Linked DNA regions of Homo sapiens: region 2 is linked to region 1. The links come from fine-mapping of genetic effects on gene expression. Tissue or cell type: whole blood. Region 1 holds a variant in brackets; the other region holds the start of a gene. All regions are shown on one strand. Distances are between the middles of the regions.

Region 1 (2,905 bases):
GAAAACCTTCCCCAAGGCCCAGCCCCGACCTCCTCCTTCTCAGACCTCCTTTAGCACCTCCTTGGAACTGCGTGACCCACAACAGCCACCACTTTACCCACATGTCCCCAGCGGTCTCACAGTTTTCTTATTTCTCCAACTAGACACTAGGCGGCTGCCTGCCTGGAACCCTGCGTTTCACTTCTCTTGTATTTCCTGTCACAGAAGTGAAGACTTGGCTTTCAGTAATTCCCCAGTGATTTGACCTCAGTCCTTCTGCCTTAATCCTGCACTTAGGCAAACACCCTCAGCCCAGGAGCCACAGCTAGGACCAATGTGTGGAAGTTCCAGGGATCACTTAATATAAAAATGAACGTTCTAATGATATGAGCAACACAAGGACATCCTGGGCTACCTCATGAAGTAACGAGCTGCCTGTTACCAGAAGTATGCAAGCACAGCCTTTTAGCAGGGCTAAGCCAGGACCCCAAAGCCAACTCACCAGAGCCATCTGTGTCCACCTGGATGCCCAGGACACGGATGTAGGAGCTTCGGATGCCCACGCCCACCCTGTCACGGCCCCTGCTGGTAGTCAGGCCAAACTTCTTGATGGAGTAGATGCCCATGATGGTAACCCTGTTCCCAGGGACGACCTTGTCACACAGGTACCTGAGAGGAGGGTAGAGGAGAAAGGAGAAAAGCTGAGATTCTGACTTGGACAGCAAGTCTCTGATTCCACCCATGCCCAGGACACGCAGGGTCCACTGCAGCATTTTTGCCACAGGCACCACATGCTGAGCTGGCTCCAGCCCCACGGAGCCCAGAGAACGGCCTCTCTCCCCACGTCACTCAGCCCATGCTCAGCTGCTTGGAGGATGGTGTTGCCCACAGTGACAGCCAAACAGAAAGGCAGGTGGTGGCCTGACTCTCGCTGAACTCGCTAACTCATTTGTACGCTGGTTTAGGAGGCTTAGTGCCAGCCCACAGAGCCCTCCAAAAGCCCCATCTCCACGTGTCTGCTGTCAGCTCACTGTGTGGTGCCCTTTAGCCTCTCAGGGCAAGACTTCCTCTTCACGCCCCCCAGCCTCCTTGAGGGGCCACTCGCCCTTTTTGCCTCTTCATGGCTCTGTGAGCTCATTTTGCCTCTGGGTTTTCATTTCCTGTTTT[C/A]AAAATGAGATGTTGAAACAGGGAAGTCTCCAAGTCCCCCAGTCAGAGACAGGGTGGTGTGGAGGGACACTTAGTCGCTGTGTGACCTCAACGAAGTCATTGCACCTCTGAGCCTAGGGGGATGACGAAGTGGCCTGCCTCTCATGTTGTGGAGTCAGGTGAGGCAGCAGACATAGAAGTGCTTTATACCATCAGGCATCACAGCTCCAGAAAAGACCATCACCGTCACTCCATGAGCCTCCAACTCCCCTCTTCCCATACCCACTTCGTAAGTTTTCAGGATTCATGAACTGCTTGGAAAATCATACATCCTGATTACGTAATCTGCATGAAGGAATTGTGCTAAACACCACATGCATTTTCAAGCAGCCCTCTGAGAGATTAAGGACTGTCCTTATCCCCATTTTACTGATGAGGAAACTGAAGCTTGACAAAGTCACATAACTTGCCCAGGGAGCAAGAGCCTGACCCCTACATACTCTGTTGCCACTAATGAAGTTAACAGAAGCTACAGATCCGCTCTCCTCAGAACATCTGCATGCAATTTCAGGATATGCAAGCCCAGGTTAGAACCCTAATCAAAGATCTCAAAACCTTCCACCCAGGTTACTATGAGGGGCCCAAGCTCAGTACCCTCTCCCCCTCAGTAGAATCTTTTTTGTTTTCCTTTTTGAGACAGGGTCTCGCTCTGTCACCCAGGCTAGAGTGGAGTGGTGTAATCACAGCTCACTGCAACCTCAACCTTCTGGGGTCAAGTGATTCTCCCACCTCAGCCTCCCAAGTAGCTGGGATTATAGGTGTCTGCCCCAACACCCAGCTAATAAATTTTTTTTTTTTAGATACAGGGTCTCAGTATGTTGCCCAGGCTGGTCTTGAACTCCTGGCCTCAAGCAATCCTCCTGTCTCAGCCGCTCCAAGTGCTGGGATTACAGGCATGAGCCACCGTGGCTGTTCAGCAGGATCTTAACAGAAAGCCTGGGGTACGCTGGGCGCAGTAGCTCACGCCTGTAATCCACGCACTCTGGGAGGCCAAGGCGGGCGGATCATGAGGTCAGGAGATCGAGACCATCCTGGCTAACAAGGTGAAACCTCATCTCTACTAAAAAATACAAAAAATTAGCTGGGCATGGTGGAGGGCGCCTGTAGTCCCAGCTACTCGGGAGGCTGAGGCCGGAGAATGGCATTAACCCAGGAGGTGGAGCTTGCAGTGAGCCGAGATCGCGCCACTGCACTCCAGCCTGGGCTACAGAGCCAGACTCCGTCTCAAAAAAAAAAAGAAAGCCTGGGGTAGGAGGTGGGGTGTCAGGCTGGGAAGAGGCTTTGCCAGCTATTGGTTATCTAGCTGTGCATCCTGGGCCTCTTATCCTAAGAAGAACACAGACTTTGGAAAGCAATGCACATAGGCTGAAAGCCCGGCTCTCCTCCACACAGGAAGTCATTTAATCTCTCCAAGTTACATTTCCTCATCTGCAAAATGGGGCTGACATGCCCCTGCAGATTATGGAAAGACGAGATGAGAGGAACTTATGGAAGCATTAGGCACAGAGCAGGTGCTCTGCAACTGGCCACCTTCTCCACCCTACTCACCCTGCTCCAGATGACCCACTCCCAACACTCGGGTTAGGGCCACAGCTGGGACATCCACCGTCGTAGATGCCCACCTCCCAGCCCGTCTGCCTCACCTGTCGCAGTAGAGCTGCATGTGTCTGGGCATCTCCCCGTGGGGGACTGCATCAGGCAGCTCCTGCAGCTTCAGGGT
Region 2 (2,905 bases), 29 kb after region 1:
ATGGTGGCTCACGCCTGTAATCCTAGCACTTTGGGAGGCTGAGGCGGGCAGATCACCTGAGGCCAGGAGTTTGAGCCCAGCCTGGCCAACATGGTGAAACCCTATCTCTACTAAAAATACAAAAAAAAAAAAAAAAATAGCCGGGCATGGTAGTGGGCGCCTGTAATCCCAACTACTTGGGAGGCTGAGGCAGGAGAATCGCTTGAACCCAGGAGGCAGAGGTTGCAGTGAGCCGAGATCGCGCCACTGCACTCCAGCCTGGGCAACAGAGCAACACTCCATCTCAAAAAAAGAAAAGCAAAAAAGCAAAAAAACAAAAAAACAAAAAACAAAAAACAAATTCAGGCTGGGCATGGTGGCTCTCGCAGCTTTGTAAACACTCTTCAGTCATTAAAACACTAAATAATACAGTCCCCCAAACCAAGGGGGAAATCCTGGTACAGGTAGTTCGCAGTGGAGAGGAGGAGGAGGTACAGCATAACCCAGGAAGAAGCAGCAGCCCCATGAACCGGCATCTCCAAGTTTGTAATTGCTTTGATTGGCTTTTAGACCCAATATTTAATTCAGTTATTTTGTTAAAGTTCCAGATGCAAATCTCATGACCCCCTATCATGTTATGCTCATCATGAAGGCGTCAGGGTTAAAAAGCCTGAGAAAGTCTGCTTTAGTCAAAGAAAAAGTCTTTCTGGGAGTATTTCTGTCATGGGTCCGTATCCCTGCCTCCCCACAGAATTGTCATTTTTCCCTTTTCTCCTGCCCTGCTTCCCTGTTCTACAACACAGCTGGTCAAAGTCTCAGGAGAAATGGCACATGTCTGTAAGTCCCAGCTACTCTGGAGGCTGAGGTGGGAGGATGCTTAAGCCCAGGAGTTAAAAAAAAAAATACTAACAAATTATTGAAAGAAGGGAATGAGTGAGACCTGGAGGTGGGCAGACCAAGGTTCAAGGCCCAGTTCTGACACCAGCTAACTGAGCACTCTTGGGCATGTCGCCTCCCTGAACTGGGCTATCTGTGAGACATGGAACACCGCAGCCAGGGTGATGTCTGGCTCAGGTCCTCCGTAGCTAGTGAGGGACAGATGCCACCAAGAGAACCAAGCATGCTCCCCCAGGCTGGCAGAGCCCCAGAGATCTAGATTCAGCAGAGAGCAACTCCAAACACACCTCGAAAGTAGGATTAAAAAAAAAATTGGCTACCTCAAAGACTGGATACTCTAGGGACACTCCCATCTTGGTCACCAACCGCATACCAGGGTGCCAGGCATGTAAATTACCGTTCCTCCCTCCAACTACCCTACGGGCACAGGCAGGATCAGAACCCCGCACCTCCTGACTCCAGAGCCCAAGTTTCTGGCTCCTGGGCTCTGTCGCTGTGTGGCAGTGTCCCGGGGTGGGGCTAGGACGCAAGCAGGGTTGGGAGAGAAAGGCGCCCGTCCCGCGTCCCGCGCCCCGCGCTTGCCTGTCGGGTTGCGGACGCTCCATCCGGCCGGTGCTGGGCTCGTTCGTGCTGGCTCCGCGGGCGGCGGCTGCGCTGAGGACGCTCGAGAGGAGGCAGGCGTTGACTGCCGGAGCCGCGGCCGGTCACATTTATGCTCGGCGGGTCACGTGGGCCAGGCGGAACAGCTGATGCCCACTTTCTGGCCGGGCGTTGCAACACCCGCAGGGGCCCGCGCCCAGCCCGCCCCGGGCCAGTGTGGGGTGGAGAGGAGCAGTCATATGACCCTTGGGAAACAAAGTCTGGCCATAGGACTTTTAGAGAAAACACACACACACACACACACACACACACATACACACACACACACACACACACACACACACAAAACCTTTAAGGAAATCTGAGAAGCTGCAGGCTCTGGGTGTGATTTTGCTCCTTCCAGAGCCCCCCCTTCTGCTCCCTGTCCCCTTGGGACTTGATGCACCCCAGGCGTCCCAGAAGGTTCCAGAAAGCTGGGAGGCAGCGCTGCTCAGAGCAATAGCCTGGTGGGCAACATCAGGAACTTAGCAACCCCAGGCTCTGCTGTCTCCAGCTCCCTAAAATGTCACCTGCTGGAATCCTCTGCTGACTGCTTGCCTCCTCACACCCTCTTTAAATGTACATTTAGGATCTGTTTTTTGAGTTCCTGTCAAAAAACAGAGACTCTAGTATTTTCATGGTTCATCCCTACAACTGACCTGTGAGGGTAGATCGCTTCTATTTTACAGATGGGGAAACCGAGGCTCAGAGGGGTGCAGTGGTGTCACACATAAAGCAGGATGCCAGTGTCCAAACCCAGGGAGGAGACTAAGTCCCCGCCTGCCTCCTCCACACTCTGGCAGCACCTGGTATCCGCCTGGACTGGGACACCTGTCATACAAACTGCTTCCCTGCTGGAATGCGTGGGACACTCTTCCAGGCACATTCAGGTCTGACTTATACTCAGTGCCTGCTCAGGGCCCAGAGCAGAGCTGGCCCTTGCTGATCGCCTATTGAATCAATTCTGCATGAGGTGGACTCCTTAGAACTCGGGGGAAATAGGGTCACTGGGTGAACCCAGAGGACAAAACGAATGGACCAGATGATTCATACAGTCCTTTCCCAATACTGTGATTCTCATTCTAAGATTTTTTTTTTAAGATGGCTTTCAGGCCTGGCATGGTAGCTCACACCTGTAGTCCCAGTACTTTGGGAGGTTGAGGTGGGAAGAGCGCTTTGAGCCCAGTCGAGGTGGGAAGATTGCTTTGAGTTCGAGACTGGCCTGGGCAACATAGGGAGACCCTGTCTCTACAAAATATAAAATAAATTAGCTGGGCATGGTGGCACATGCCTGTGGTCCCAGCTACTTGGGAGGCTGAGGCTGGAGGTTCACTTGAGCCTGGGATGTAGAGGCTGGAGTGAGCTGTGACCACGCTACTGTATTCTAACC

What was found. PIP is the estimated chance that this variant, and not a neighbour inherited with it, causes the effect.
Region 2: it holds the start of HMOX1, and the variant in region 1 is fine-mapped to the expression of HMOX1 in whole blood (TOPMed, PIP above 0.99).

What each region holds. Positions count from the first base shown.
Region 1 is chr22:35,408,487-35,411,391 of GRCh38, reverse strand. MCM5 (minichromosome maintenance complex component 5) reads right to left here. Exons shown (of 17, transcript NM_006739.4): 6 at 2,829-2,905; 7 at 482-648. Among named protein-coding and RNA genes, the nearest start is that of MCM5, 9.8 kb to the right of the region's middle. RefSeq lists enhancers at 744-883, 964-1,183, 1,274-1,333. The variant C/A (reference allele first, on the strand shown) is at 1,147.
Region 2 is chr22:35,379,750-35,382,654 of GRCh38, reverse strand. It overlaps HMOX1 (heme oxygenase 1), which reads right to left and starts at 1,559. Exons shown (of 5, transcript NM_002133.3): 1 at 1,459-1,559. The coding sequence starts at 1,481. RefSeq lists silencers at 1,289-1,458, 1,759-1,838.